Linked DNA regions of Homo sapiens: region 2 is linked to region 1. A link means that fine-mapping ties the variant in region 1 to the expression of a gene that starts in the linked region. Tissue or cell type: whole blood. Region 1 holds a variant in brackets; the other region holds the start of a gene. All regions are shown on one strand. Distances are from middle to middle.

Region 1 (8,104 bases):
AATTGCAGCTATGAAAAGAGGTGCATGAGAGAAACAGCATTAAACATTTAAGGAAACAGCCCATAGCCCAATGGAAAGAAGGTGGGCTAGGGATTCAGCCAGACAGGGTGAGAATCCTGCACGACCACTCCCCAGCCAAGCAAGTCTCCTCGCCGCTGTGTGCCTCAGTTTCCTCTTGTGTCAAATGGGGCAATAGTAGTACTTATTTCATATGCTTCTTTAAGAAATTAAAAATAAGGCACCGAGGCCAGGCGCAGTAGCTCACGCCTGTAATCCCAGCACTTTGGGAGGCCAAGGCGGGCGGATCACAAGGTCAGGAGTTTGAGACCAGCCTGGCCAACATGGTGAAACCTTATCTCTACTAAAAATACAAAAATTAGCCGGGCGTGGTAGCAGGTGCCTGTAGTTCCAGCTACCCAGGAGGCTGAGACAGGAAAATCGCCTGAACCTGGGAGGCAGAGGTTGCAATGAGCCGAGATTGTGCCACTGCACTCCAGCCTGGCGACAGAGCAAGACTCCACCTCAAAAAAAAATAAGGCACCAAACACATGTAGCAGAGTGCCCGGTGAGTGGTGAACACTCAGTACCTGAACTTCAATCATTTTTATGACCTCATATCATTACTAGGGTCATGTGCTGTGACCCAGCAAATGACATCATCGTGGAAGCCACAGGATTCCCCAGAACCTCCATCGAGTGGGACTCATCCTTGACCTGTGCCCCTGCTGCTTTCTCTGTGCTCCCCTGTGAGGCCCCGCTAGGGCTGGGGCTGCCACCTTGACCTGCTGCAAGCTCCGGGCATGCTGTCGTCATGCTAGGCCACGAGCAGTCTCCTCTCGGCAACTGAGCCTCTTTCCAACGTCTGCAGAGGCAAATCTCCCAGCAAGGGGCCATGCTGGAGCCTTCCCTAGGGTGGTCACGTCAGAGGCTGCTCAGAGGTGCTGCGCCAGGGGTGCGGGCAAAGAATCCAGGGTGCTCTGGTCTCCCAGACAGGCCTGCCAAGCATCAATGGGGTGACGACTCCATGCCACCCTTTAACCTCACCTGATGGATCACTGACCTCCGCTGCGTGTAGAGGCCAGCCTGGGGAGGTCATGCCACTTGTTAGCCCTGGAAGGTATTCTCTTCCAGCACTGCTACTGCTGCCTCTCTGAAAGGACCGTGCATTCTCAACTTACATAATAACGCCGGAGCCAAGATCCTCTTTCCTCTGCCAGTGACTACAGTGCTGCCAGGGGGTGCAAATTCCAACCCTCACAGGGGGCCAGGCAGGTGCCATGGATGGGCTACATGGGGACTGGCAAAACCCATGCAGACGTATGGCTGTTCCTCAGCTCCAGCTGACGGCTTTACATCCTCATCTTCCCAAAATGTATAATGAGCTGGACGTGGTGGCATGTAACTGTAGTCCCAGCTACTCAGGAGGCAGAGGTGGGAGGATCGTTCAAGCCCAGGAGTTCAAGGCTGCAATGAGCTATGATTGTGTCACTGCACTCCAGCCTGCGCAACAGAGTGAGACTCCATCTCTAAAAAAAAATTAAAATGTGGGCCAGGCGCAGTGGCTCACGCCTATAATCCCAGCACTTTGGAAGGCCGAGGCGGGTGGATCACCTGAGGTCAGGAGTTCAAGACCAGCCTGACCAACTTGGTGAAACCCCATCTCTAATAAAAATACAAAAATTAGCCAGGTGTGGTGGTGCATGTCTGTAATCCCAGCTACTGGGGAGGCTGAGCCAGGAGAATCACTTGAACCCAGGAGGCAGAGGTTGCAGTGAGCCGAGACTGCGCCACTGCACTCCAGCCTGGGCAACAAGAGTGAAATTCCATCTCAAAAAAATAAATAAAAAATAAAAATGCATAATGTCCAAAGGCTTACATTAGACTGATGGATGGATGGACAGAGATATGGATAGATAGGCACAGTAAAATATTAATGGTAACATCTAGATGATAGGTGTATGAGTACTATTTGCTGTAAAATTCTTTCAGCTTCGCCACATGTTTGAATTTTCTCATAGAAAATACTGAAAAAAGTAATGTCAGGTTTTTTTTCTGCTCATAAAATCCTATTTCTTTTTCTACTTTTTCTTTCAAGTCTGTTTTACTGTTACAGTGATCATAGTCACATGTGTTACACCTTTGTTTTTTAAACCAACAATCTTGCCACCAGACTTGAGCTCTGAAGAGGGCAGGGACAAGGTTCCCTGCTATGCCCCCAGCACCCAGCAGATGCCTGACCCCAGTTGGTACTTGTATGACATCTGTGGAATGAATGAATGAGTGAATGAATGGACTGTGGGAAACGTGGAATCTGTCAGCGTATTTCCCTGCCAGGCTCTCCATCTCTGTACCCTCCTATGGTTCAGACTGACCCAACACACTGGTTTTAAACACCTATCCAACCCAGATGACAGAGGATATGTGAAGGGACTTTGGGCCTCAGTTCCCCTGTTTATAAAACGGATATCCTTCTAGGATGTTCTTCTGCAGGGCTGCTGTGAGAGAGAGGTGTCACACGTGCAAAGTGAGGGCTCAAAGCACTGACCACGATTGTTTTTACTGCCACTGGCTGGTTTTCAACCAAAGCCTTCCAGTGAAGAAGAGATGACGGCAGGGCCTGATGACAGATCACCATCGACCATGGGTGGCTTATTAGCTTTTCTTAATGACTCCGGTCATTCAACATGCATTTCAGAGATGCAGAAAAATGTTATGCAGCATCCTTGTGCAGTTCTGAGCAGCCCTGCCCTGGTGGCAGGGAGAAAGGCTTTTTGTTTTGTGTTCTCCTAACCATGAGCTACGAGGGTCACGAGGCCACCATGGTCAGCAGAAGCTGGGCCCCAACAGCAGCTGTTATTGTGTGTGGGGCCACCACACAGGGCCAGAGCTCCCGCTCAACAGTAGGGGAGGAATGTGGGGCCTCAAATGCACTTCTGGGGCTGGGAGCCTAGCAGAAGAGAGGGGAGGCGAGGCAGGGGCTGGGAACAAGACCCCAGACTACTTCCATGCTCTACCCACAGGGAGCCACCAGCAGGAAAGGCAGCTCTGTATGCATCTCTGTGTTACATAAACAAGCACGCTGAAGTGGGTTTGGAAGCATCTGGAGGTGGGCTGCCTGCAATTAGCAGTGGCGTCAACCTGGGCAGTGGCACTGAAGCAGTGGCATCCACAGTCCTGGGTTTGAATCTCAGCTCTGGTGTGAGTTTGGCCAAGTGACTTAACCACTCCAGGTTCAGGCCCTTCGGTTTCTACAGCCCAGAGGTGCTATGCAAACAGGAAGTGCTCTGTATATGGTTGGGCTGAAGCCTGTTTCAACATCACCCACCCAAGGCTCTGGGCTTATGTTTGCCTTTGGTGCAGTCCAAGGACATCAAGTCACAGAAAAGCCAAATGACTTGCCCAGGTTACACTCCAGGGAGTGCCAGGAACTCAGACACAATTCCAGAGCCAAAGCTGCTTCCACTACACCCTTAACCTTTCTGTCTAGAATGTTACCATTCTTTGAACTCAAAGAATGTTTCTTTGAGGTCCTGTGAACTCAGAGAAAATAGGAAACCAGAAGACGATTTTAATTCCCAAGCATGTGGTGGCTTTTCTAATAGTTTATTTTATTTATTTACTTATTTTATTTTATTTTATTTTTTGAGGCAGAGTCTCACTCCGTTGCCCAGGCTGGAGTGCAGTGGCGCAATCTAGGCTCACTGCAACCTCCACCTCCCGGGTTCAAGTGATTCTCCTGCCTCAGCTCCCCAGAAGCTGGGATTACAGGCGTGTGCCACCGCACCCAGCCTCTAAGAGTTTAAATTCAAGCCTGTGCCTGCTCTGAATACAGCATGACATGTTTCTACCAGGCTCTCAAGCCTTCCCTTTCCTACAGAATGCAGCCTTAACCCCAAATTACCCTTCTTGTTTGACCAGTTTTGCAGTTACTCCAAACTTGTTTTTTTCAATTGTTGTCAGCAAACAGCCTCTTTGAAATGCCACCCAGAACCTGTCTGCCTGGAGGGAGGGAAGGGACTTGGAGGGTTTTCTAGTTCATGACCTTCAGGGAGAAAGGAAGCTGTCTTTTAAACATTTTTTATTTATTCTTCTTCTTCTTATTTTTTAATAGAGACAGGGTCAGGCCGAGCATGGTGGCTCACGCCTGTAATCCCAACACTTTGGGAGGCCGAGGCGGGCGGATCACCTGAGATCCGGAGTTCAAGACCAGCCTGACCAACATGGTGAAACCCCCATCTGTACTAAAAATACAAAAATTAGCTGGGCATAATGGTGCACATCTGTAATCCCAGCTACTTGGGAGGGTGAGGCAAGAGAATCACTTGAACCTGGGAGGCGGAGGTTACAGTGAGTTGAGATTGCGCGTGAGATTCTGTTTGAAAAAAAAAAAAAATAGAGACGGGGTCTTACTATTTTGCCCAGGCCAGTCTCCAACTCCTGGGCTCAAGTGATCTGCCAGCCTTGGCCCCCTCAAAGTGCTGGGATTACAGGCGTGAGCCGCCATGCCTGGCCTGAAGCTGTCTTTAAAAAAAGAAAAATCAGATGTGGTCCCACCATCTTCTTTCACAGACCCAACTAGAGTGAGCAGATTCCAAATACAGTAAAGCCTTGGTTATCTGGAACAGCTGGCAAACGGCCCCTTCTGTTTAATGGAGAAGGCTTTTTCCAATGCACGCTACTCAACTCAGAAGGCACAAGGAAAGAAACCAATAAATCTAATTATAAAAAACAGAAACCTCCTATATGGGGGAGACGAGAAATCCCACCACCAACCAAAGCCAAACAACTAGGGGGGCAGAGAGTAGAGAGTCTGTGTAACAAGGATAACAGAAAAAAGGCTAATATCCCTAATATGTAAACAGCTCTTACAAATCAGTAAGAATAAAACAACAGCCCTACAGAACAATGGGCAATTCACAATAGAAATGAAAAGATGCTTAATCTCAATAATAA[CA/C]AAAAAAAAGTGAAATATTTTCCATCTACCATTTTTTAAAAAAAGAGTCTTGCTATATTGCGCAGGCTGGAGTGCAGTGGCCATTCACAGGTGCAATCCCTCTACTGATTAGCATGGGAATTTTGACCTGCTGTTTCTGACCTGGGCCAGTTCACACCTCTTTAAGCAACCTGGTGGTCCTCTTTGCCAGGAGGTCACCATATTGATGCCAAACTTAGTGCAGACACCCAATCAGTGTAGCACACTACAGCCAAGAACTCTTGGGCTCAAGTGATCTTCCTGCCTCAGCTTCCTGAGTACCTGGGACTACAGGTGTGCACCACTGTGCCTGGCTCTCAAATATGAATATACCATCAGCATTCTAGTTCAGCCATCCTGGATGGAACTCATCAAAATGTAACACAAATGTCACTGCTTTCATAGTGGAAGCCATTCGTAGCTTTCTGAACAGGGCCATCATCAAAAATACGAGTTATGATAAAGATGTAGCCCAGAAATGTCACTGGTCCCCTCAAACCGTCACTAAATGACTCTGGATGGTGTGCCTTTAGGCTTTTAGGACAACTAGACAGCTTTGTGTATCTTTTTTTTTTTTTTTTTTGAGACAGGGTATCACTGTGTTGCCCAGGCTGGAATGCAGTGGCACAATCATGGCTCATTGTAGTCTGGAACTCCTGGTCTCAAGCAATCCTCCCACCTCAGCCTCCAGAGTAGTTGGGACTACAGATGTGCACCACCATGCTGGGCTAATTTTTTTTTTTTTTTTTTTTTTACCTTTTGTAGAGACTGGGACTCACTATACCATTGCCCAGGCTGGTCTTGAACTCCTGGGCTCAAGCAATCCTCTAGCCTCGGCCTCCCAAAGTGCTAGGATTACAGGCATGAGCCACTGTACCTGGCCAACTTTGTGTATTTTTTTAAAACTCCTGTTGATGGTTGACAGCTACTTCTTCCTGCAGTGCTTCAATTATTTATTATTCTTTTTTTTTTGAGACAGAGTCTCACTCTATAGCCCAAGCCGGAGTGCAGTGGAGCAATCTCGGCTCACTGCAACCTCCGCCTCCCGAGCTTAAGCAATTCTCGTGCCTCAGCCTCCCGAGTAGCTGGGACTACAGGCGCACGCCACCATGCCAGGCCAATTTTTTGTATTTTAGTAGAGACAGGGTTTCACCATGTTGCCCAGGGTGGTCTCAAACTCCTGAGCTCAAGCGATCCACCCACCTCGGCTTCCCAAAGTGCTGGAATTACAGGCGTGAGCTACCGTGCCCAGCCAAATTCTTATAGATACTTAAATACCAAATAGCCACCAGAATCAGAATCTCCTGCAAAGAGAAGGTATGCACCAATGAGGGGTTTCATGCATGGCCTCTGGGACAATTCTGACTAGACAAGGGCTATCTGGGGCCTCCTGCCTGGATCTCTGCCACAGTTCAGATGGGTGACATTGCCCAGAAAGCAGAATTCCCTGTAAGCCAGCAGTGACCATATGCTACACAGAATCACACTAATTTCTCTTTTTTCTTTTGAGATGGGGTCTCATTGTATCACCAAGGATGGGGTATAGTGGCACAATCACAGCTCACTGCAGCTTTTTCTTTTCTCTTTTTTTTTTTTTTTTTGAGACGGAGTCTCGCTCTGTCGCCCAGGCTGGAGTGCACTGACACGATCTCAGCTCACTGCAAGCTCCGCCTTCTGGGTTCACGCCATTCTCCTGCCTCAGCTTCCTGAGTAGCTGGGACTACAGGTGCCCGCCACCACGCCTGGCTAATTTTTTGTATTTTTAGTAGAGACAGGGTTTCACCGTGTTAGCCAGGATGGTCGCGATCTCCTGACCTCGTGATCCACCCGCTTTGGCCTCCCAAAGTGCTGGGATTACAGGCGTGAGCCACCGCGCCTGGCCTCACTGCAGCTTTGACCTCCGAGGCTCAAGTGATCCTCCAGCCTCAGTCTCTGGAGTAGCTGAGACTACAGACACATGTCACTACGACCAGCTAATTTTTTGTTTTTAATTTTTTGTAGAGATGGGGACTCACTTTGTTGCCCAGGCTGGTCTTGAACTCCTAGCCACAAGTGATCCTCCCGCCTTGGCCTCCCAAAGCACTGGAATTACAGGCAGGAGCCACTGTACCCGACCTCATTTCCTCTTTTTCTGGCCTCAAGAGAGTTGGACAGTACTGGTCGTTATGCTCTTAGCAAGACCACAGCATATACCTGGAAGTTGCCATCCAAGCTGCCCCTCCATGCCTGCCTCTTCAAACAGCCATCTCTTACAACATGGGATGTTCCTGACATTGAGTAACAAGGTGACCAAATTGCCCTGCCCTGGCCTACCCTCTCGTTTCATCTCAAGAACAATGTTCAGGGAAAAAAAAGGACTCTTAAAGATGCACAGCTTGCTTCACTTTCAGCCTGTGTGATTCAGGACAGAACACACCTAACCCAATTCATAAACAGTCATTTCCAGAAAGGAAGAACAGGATGCCCGTGTCGTGATGCTACAAGCCTGGTGTGGGGAGGTTCTATTGCAAATTCAATGGTTTTTTTCATAGCTGGATAATAAAGTTCAGTTGTTAAACACATGAGGCAGATTAACTTTATAGGTCTTGGGTTACAAGGATCATAATGGAAGACACTCAAATTACAGCTGATGGAGATGAATCATTTATTAATCTGGGGGTGCGGGTTGTCATGGCTCTGCTTACTATAAGGCCTATTTTTAAGGATACGAGCCTTGAGATTACCTACATTTCTAAAACAGGTTCCTGCTCTGAGTCTACTACCTAAAGAGGAAAGAATGTTTACAAAACAATTCAAAATACTTCTTTAAAAACTTCACCCCCGGGCCAGGCACAGTGGCTTACTCCTGTAATCCCAGCACTTTGGGAGGCCAAGGCGGGTGGATCACTTGAGGCCAGGAGTTCAAAATTAGCCTGGCCAACATAGTGTGAACCCGTTTCTACTAAAAATACAAAAATGAGTCGGGCATGGTGGTGCACGTCTGTAATCCAAGTTTCTCAGGAGGCTGAGGCAGGAGAATCACTTGAACCCAGGATGGGGAGGTTGCAGTGAGCCAAGATTGATTGCGCCACTGCAATCCAGCCTGGGCGACAGAGTAAGGCTCTACCTCAAAAAAAAAAAAAAAAAGAAAGA
Region 2 (8,104 bases), 130 kb after region 1:
TTGTTGAACAAGATTTATGTCAAGTAGGAAGAAAAGTCTTTACTGAATTCAATACAGATAATATTTGTAAATAGCATTGATGGGCATGCCATCTCTATTCAATTATGAAACAGTTTTGTCTTATGGAAGAAGTACACCAGGAGAAATTTAAGTTATTAACATGATGAGCCCTAAAATGTAAATTACCAACTGTCAGGAGAATTCTTATCCTTTACCTGAAGCAGTGTTGGAGGCCACGGTGTGTGTTTCAGATGCCTCACTTGGGAGATATGGCGCCCTAGACTCCGATGGACACTGCAGCACTCATCACATAAAAACGTTCCCCTATTTACTGATGCCCAGGAAGGATCTGGAAAGAGAGTGAAATCTCAGTGGCAGGGATACCAGCAGGTTGCTATACCGCCAGATGGCAAAAGATGACTGAAGTTTGGTTTGTCAGAAAAAGGAGACATTTTTGTTTCAGTATGCTCATCAATGCATCAGGCTGGTCATCTTGTTGGATGGTATGACCTACCTTGGCTGATTAGGTACAATGTTAATTGAGACTAAAAACACCAGTGGGAGCCTTGGGTAAACAGTTATCTTCTTTCTGGTTCAGGGCCACAGTTTGTAGCCCTAATGTGGATCTACCATTTCAGATGCATGCTTTTTCATTCAAGCTAAGAAAGCAAATTGAGAGGGTACAGACGAATGATTTTGGATCCATCTCCATAAAAATCAAGATAATACTTTTTTTTTTTTTTTTTTTTTTTTGAGATGGAGTCTCACTCTGTCACCCAGGCTGGAGTACAGAGGCACAATCTTGGCTCACTGCAACCTCTATCTCCCAGATTCAAGCAATTCTCCTGCTTCAGCCTCCCGAGTAGCTGGGATTACAGGCATGCACCACCACGCCCGGCTAATTTTTGTATTTTTAGCTGAGACGGGGATTCATCATGTTGGTCAGGTTGGTCTCAAACTCCTGACCTCAGGTGATCCGCCCACCTCGGCCTCCCAAAGTGCTGAGATTACAGGCGTGAGCCACTGTGCCCGGCCAAGATAATATAATTTTGACAGTGAATTATGCAGATAGCATTTTCTGCAGTAAATGTTGTAGACTGCTGTCCTAATTCACTGCTATGAATCAACATGTCAATATGCTTAGCAGAAAGCTGCGAGTTACAGAATCATAAAATCACTCAGCTGCTATGGTTCTGAGGACAGGGAAACCTGGCCTCTTCCATTAGGAAATGTTCTATGATGTCCATGAATTGGTTTGTTTGTCTGTTTGTTTGTTTTGAGACAGAGTCTCACTCTGTCCCCTAGGATGGAGTGCAGTGGCGCAATCTCGGCTCACTGCAACTTCTGCCTCCAGGGTTCAAGCGATTCTCCTGCCTCAGCCTCCCGAGTAGCTGGAATTACATGTGTGTGCCACCAGCTCGGCTAATTTTTGTTATTTTTAGTACAGACGAGGTTTCACCATGTTGGCCAGACTGGTCTCAAACTCCTGACCTCAGGTGATCCACTCACCTCGACCTCCTAAAGTGCTGGGATTACAGGCTTGAGCCACTGTGCCCAGCCAATTAATTGTTTTACATAAACTACCAAGTCCAATCCTGCAACTGATCTGAAAAAAAAAAAAGAAGTTGCAATAACAGCAGCTTCACAGAGGCAAAGATGTAAAATAAAAATGAATAATATTTTTAGTGTGTGTATAATACTTTTTTCCCTTTAAAGTCATAGAGCTTCATTAGCTGTCCTTTGAAACAAGGAATAATTTCATACTTGGCAAGCAGGATGGATCTGGGTAAGTAAACTGAATACCTAGAAACCTCAAATAAAGAAAGAGCTATACTTCGTCAGACTCACAATGGGGTGACAATAGGTGCCACTTAAGCTGCCTGGTCAAAGGGTTACATTTAAAAATTCTTCAATGTCCACAAAAATCTCTAAAATGCATGTACACCATCTTTACCATTTTTTAAGAGTTTATTCAAACCCTTTCAAACCATATAATGAAAAGTTATGGGCTTTCAATCAAAGACGAATCCTGGGAGCCAGTGAGTATGGTGGTTAAGAGGGTTGGCTCTAGAGACAAGGAGTTCAGGGTTTGAACCCCAACTCTGCCACTTCTTGCACAATGATCTCAGACAAGTTACTTGAGTGTTTTCACCATGGTTCAAATGAGAACAATGACAAATCTCGGGATAGTAAGGATATAGAGAATAAGTGAAGTACCTCACACATAGTAAAGTAGTAATGTTAGTTGTTATATCTTTTCTAAATTATTTTCTCAGTATTCAGATATTTTCTAGACGTGAAATTCATGATCACTGGACAAAGTTTTTGATGGGAAATACTTAAAACATTGAACATTTCATGTGACCACTCTACTACTGTACTGAAAATCTCCATGGAGTTTTCAAGTAATTGAACTCAGAGTGTGATGTATTTGAAATGAACCAGATTCATTAAAAAAAAAAAAGTAGAATATTTAAGAAGATGTGATCATGGTTAAATGTTTGCATAAAATAAAACAGAATCAAAATAATTCAATTTAGTATAACTCTGTCGCTATTACTGTATCATCCTAAAAAGCAGAGATTGGAAATGTCCAGATGAAGGAGCTCTACAAAGATGCATTAACAACACTGCTTCCTGCAGTATAGTACTGACACTAATGGCAAAAAAAAAAAAAAAAAAAAAAGACTGTTTTGAAGCATAGCTTTGGTTTTCACTTATTCAGAGGATTTGCAGTATTCTTTTTTTAGCAAGTATTTAACACATATTAATTAAGACAAGTATTCGACTAACCACTTTAGCATCCTGGATCAGAATCCCATGGAAAGAATATTAGAATGTTAACATAGTAAAATAAAAATGTTTGTATGAATGAGATTGGGTAAAACCCTTTAAGTTCATCTGGAGCCAGGGCTCCAGGGACACCACAAATGAACTTCAAAAATGTTTGTGACTCCCCCAGACAAATCTTAGGTAAATTCGTTCACGTGCATTTTAGGGGAGAAGGCCTTAGCATTCAACAGAATCTCAAAGGGGTCCCTAACCCTACAGGTAATTCTCTCAGTAGGGCTGTGCAGAAAAGGCAGCACAAATTCCCAGCTGCTCAATTTCACAGAATATTTCAAGGTAGCCTAATTATATTCAAAACAGGAAGGAAGTGACTCAAGTCTCTGCAGATTAGGCGTATGAGACAACAACTAAAGCGATACAATGGAAGAGAAAATGTTCTGAAATGCACAAAATGCTGCAAAAGTATATTTAGGATGGCAATGGAGGAACAATTTTGCTTTGCCCTGTACCCTATCAAGAAGCAAAACAATATGCATTCCAAGAGGAAGTTAGAAGCTAGACACATGTGAATCAAATACATCACGGTAAGTTCAACTGAAAATAGGCAAGAAAATAAGGAAGTGGAACAAATAACATTTTTAGAGAAAATGATGGAGTTTGTATAACTCACACTAACTTGGTTTAGAAAACACTTCTTTTTAAACTCCTCCATACCCCCTCCCTATCTTCAAAGGAAACTGGTAACACCTGCACTGTACGGGCCATAAAACAACCACATGAGGTTTGAGTTATCACAGTTCTATTTACAATTGGTCTCCACTTCCAAATGACAAGCTTAAGATCAGAACAGTTGCAAAGCCAGTGGTGTTCAATGATTTAATTAAGATTGTTTATCGGACACTATTGTGCCAAGAAAGCCATGTTACCTTCGAATTAACTCAAAGCCAATACATCCAAGCACCTAAAACAGCATGTAATAATCTATCCAGAGACCTGACAATTCAGTTGCAATTGCTAAGACACACTTGATCTCTAAATGTGAATATTATGTATGAACAGTTATGCATCATTATGAAGGAATGGCTTTAGCGTTTCAATGCCCCTATATTGCTGGTGATTTTGCGTTTGTTTCCGTTGTAATCAACGTATGATTTAGATAGTCAAATATAGCTTTAAGGGACTACAAGAGTTCTACTGTAGACAGCATAATGCAAAAAAGAAAAGCCTTAGATGATATGATTCTACGAGTATTCATTGAATCTTCCTCACCACTAAGCGTGATACTCCCGATTATCCTCATTGAAAAAAATGAGGAAATCAAGCAAGTGACCAAGTGAAGTCACCAGCCCAAGGTCAGCCAGAAGCAAAATCTAGTTTGAACCCAGGCCGTTCAGATCCTCAAACTTGAGACAAGCACTGCCTCCTAAGTGCTGGTTGTGTTTGGAAGACCCCGATCTCCTGGCAATTCTCCCGGGCAGAGTAGCTGTCGGATGTCAGCAGCGGGGAAGTCATCTACGGGGACCCTCTGGCGAGTCTCAGGGAGTGTCATCCTCCCCGGGCAGGACACCCAGGCGGAGAAAGGGTCTAGTGGGAGGTGACACCTGCAGCCTCTGGAGGCTGCAGCCGGGAGGACGCTCACATTTTACTTCTGTAATTGGCTTTCCTGTGGATTGCCCAAGCCCCTTCCTGTTGGGGGAGCAGCCCTGGCCCCCGTCACCTCCCCAGTTGGCCTAGGACGGAGGGAACGGGAGGGAACGAGAGGGAAGGGAGGGCCGCGAGGGACGGGGAGGGCGGCGGCCCCCTGCCCGCCCGGCTCTGACAGGCCCGGGACGGTTCCCACCCCAAGGCCGCCCAGGGACCTCTTCGTTGCGACCCTAGCCGCGGGATGCAGCCTGACCTGAGGGGGCGGCCCCGGGGTAGGGGTCCGGGCCAGGAAAGCAGAGGGGAGCGGGCCCGGCCGGTGCGACTCACCCGGCCCGCTGCAGTCAGCGCACACCTCGCTGCTCCGGAGCCGTTTCGACATGGCTCCCACCTCCCACCTGCGGGGAACTAGAGGCCGGGGGACAGCAAAGGCGGCGGTGGCGGCGGCGCTTCCGCTCTAACGGGTCCCAGCTGCGGCGGCGCTGACGGCGGCGCCTCTCCCCTCAGCGCCTTGCAGCCTTGGCACAGCACGCACGCGCGGGGAGGTGCCCTTCGGCGAGTGTCAGGTCATGTGACCGGAAAGGGCACTCTGCCTTGTCGCCATCTTGAGTGAGGGCAGGAGACTGCCCGAGTATCATCTGTCCTACCTTTAAATATTGAATTTGGGTCTTCTTCTCTGGCAGAGATTCCCCTCGTCCCAACTGATTAATACCAGGGGAAGTAGCAATATCTTGTGATGAGAACCCTGCAGCCACAACCTTCCTGAGGCAATCAATGGTCAAGTTCATTCATTCATTCCTTGATTCAACAAATGTTTATCAAGCACTTACCATGCTTTATATACTGTCCCAGCCACTGGAGAAACAGCAGTGAGCAAAGACTGAATTTCTAGTCCTTATGAAGCTTGCATTTTACTGGGGTAAAGTAAAATAAGAATATATTATATGATTCCAGGCTGGGCGTGGTGGCTCACTCTTGTAATCTCAACTCTTTGGAAGGCTGAGGCAGGAGGATCACTTGAGGCAGGAGTTCGAGACCAGCCTGGGCAACATGGTGAAACCCCATCTCTACTAAAAATACAAAAATTGGCCGGGCGCGGTGGCTCACGCCTGTAATCCCAGCACTTTGGGAGGCCGAGGCGGGTGGATCACGAGGTCAGGAGTTCAAGACCAGCCTGGCCAACATGGTGAAACCCCGTCTCTACTAAAAATACAAAAATTAGCCGGGCACAGTGGCAGGAGCCTGTAATCTCAGTTACTTGGGAGGCTGAGGCAGGAGCTTGAACCCAGGGGGTGGAGGTTGCAGTGAGCTGAGATCACGCCATTGCACTCCAGCATGGGCGACAGAGTGAGACTCCGTCTCAAAAAAAAAAAAAAAAAAAAAAAAATTAGCCGGGCGTGGTGGCGCATGCCTGTAATCCTAGATACTCAGGAGGCTGAGGCATGAGAATCGCTTGAGCCTGGGAGGTGGACGTTGCAGTGAGCAGAGATCGCGTCACTGCACTCCAGCCTGGGGGACAGAGCGAGACTGTCTCAAAAACAACTTCAACAACAACAACAAAAATAACAAAAAAGAATATATTAGATGATTCCTTAGGCTTCAGTTTTAATCTCATGTTCAAAATTAAGATAATGCATTGTTTACTTCTAGTCCACGATTTGTTTTTGTATGGCTTGCTACTTAAGAATGATTTTTACATTTTTAAAGGGTTGCGAGATGAAAATGAAGAAGAGAGAGAGGGAAATAAAGAAAAAGAGGAAGAAGAATATGCGACAAAACTTGTATGTGACCAGCAAAGTTAAACATTCATTTTGGCTAAGGACAGATGGAATAAATTATGGGAAAAATGTGATACACCTGCTGGATAGTAACCCCTCAGTAAATAGTAGCTCCCATAATTATGGATATTGCTATTATTTTCTAATTACTGTTTTTCTTCATATGCGTGGAATTTGAGAATAACAATAGCTAACATGGGATAATTTACAAAATGGTGTGAGATAAACACAATGAAATGAGGTAAATCAGTGTGAAGGAGAAAGGAGATGTGACCCTAATACCAATGACTACTTATTGTCTGTCTTACATATAAACACAGCTATGATCTCCATTCAGCAAATATTGAATGCCTGTTGTTAGCCAGGTACTATTTTGGTTTTAGATACTCTGGTAAGCAAAACGATGTGGTTCCTGTCATTATGGGGTTTTCTGATTAATGAGATAGGGAGATTTTCAATAAACACGGCATGATGAAGAAGAAGGAGAACGTTAAGTTGCAAAAGGCATCTGAAAGAATGAGAAGTGCTGGAAAAGGCCTCAGAAGCACTGGTCTTGAGTCCATCTCTACAGTGTGATAAATGTGTGATGGAGAAATAATCACAGAATTCCCACGCATTCCATGGTTAGAGTCTCCGGGTGCCATCCTGGTGCTCCTGCATCCTGTTTTGGTTTAACAACTCACAAATCTTCTGGGCTCCACATCTGTGGAGAATGGATTAGGTTGGGATTCTTGAACAGCTGTTGTTGCAGGCATCTGAAGAGCTGGATGTGCATACACTCAGAGGGCAGAGGGAATGTTTTCACAATGCATTAAATAGCTTCATCCAGCTATGTGGTCTAGTTGTAGACAGCTGAGCTGAAGCAGCAGCAGAAAGTTCAAGCCCATGAGTAGCTAGCTGTAAGTTGATTTGGTTCTTCATTGAGTCAAGGAGGCATAGTGCCTGAAACTCAAAGAATAAACTTCATATTCGCAGACTGTGGTCAAATATGTATATTATTTATCAGTCCTTTCAGCCATAACCTCAAATCCAAAAAGCTAGCTTAAAAATGACATTCATACATGGACTAAATCACCACCATAGTTAGCTATTGAATCATAACCCGGTTCGGAGTTCAAATAGAAGCGGTTCTCAACTGAGGACGATTTTTCTCCCCGAGACGACATTTGGCAATATCTGGAGAGACATGTTTTGGGGAGTGCTACTGGCATTGAGTGGGGAGAAAGACCAGGGCAACTGCTCAGCATCCTACAAGGACCGGACAACCCCCACACAAAAACTGCCCAGTTCAATATGTGCCGAGGTTGAGAAATCATGAAGTAGAAATATCCCCTTTTATGCAAATACTGTATTTGAAGCCACTTCGCCAGGGTTTAGCGTTCCTCCTTCAAAAATTGTCCGGTGTTGCCCACTTCCAAAATGGCTTTTGACCCGTCGTGGAAGCATCTGTCCTGCTCCAAAAAGGCTGCAAGGGTGTCGGCAGCTGGAATGGTTTGGTCCGGGGCTCAGTTGTCACCCCCTGACTTCAGAGCCAATGGAAGAGGCCCAGTTGTGGACCGAACCACATGGGGCTACTGGAGCAGGGGGAAAGAAGCTGGGGACAGGTAGACGGAACTTTCCGCGTGGAGATCTTTGGCCAAGAGAATGAGCCTCAGCTCTGTTCTGTGGGCTGCACTGAGTTTCTCGGTGTGAGCTGGAGGTGGGTGCAATGGCGCGGACCCCGGACCCGGTGCCCAAGGTCGCCTATCCCCGCCGCGGCATGCGGTGGTTCGCTCTCCGCACTTCCCTGTTTGGGGCAGTTAGGTCCGCAGAAGTCTGTCCGCGAGCTGTCAGCGCGGGCGGGAACGCCGCGGGGCGCGGGGTGGGCGCGGCCGACCTGGTCCCTGAGCCGGCCG

What was found. PIP is the estimated chance that this variant, and not a neighbour inherited with it, causes the effect.
Region 2: it holds the start of GIT2, and the variant in region 1 is fine-mapped to the expression of GIT2 in whole blood (TOPMed, PIP above 0.99).

The regions. Positions count from the first base shown.
Region 1 is chr12:109,861,223-109,869,326 of GRCh38, forward strand. The region is part of intron 1 of GLTP (glycolipid transfer protein); the gene reads right to left. It also overlaps the pseudogene RN7SL441P. Among named protein-coding and RNA genes, the nearest start is that of GLTP, 15 kb to the right of the region's middle. The variant CA/C (reference allele first, on the strand shown) is at 4,954.
Region 2 is chr12:109,991,412-109,999,515 of GRCh38, forward strand. GIT2 (GIT ArfGAP 2) reads right to left here and starts at 4,957. Exons shown (of 20, transcript NM_057169.5): 1 at 4,762-4,957; 2 at 216-349. The coding sequence starts at 4,813. It overlaps ANKRD13A (ankyrin repeat domain 13A), which reads left to right and starts at 8,019. Exons shown (of 15, transcript NM_033121.2): 1 at 8,019-8,104. RefSeq lists enhancers at 4,228-4,277, 4,968-5,127, 7,743-7,932 and silencers at 4,608-4,697, 8,013-8,104.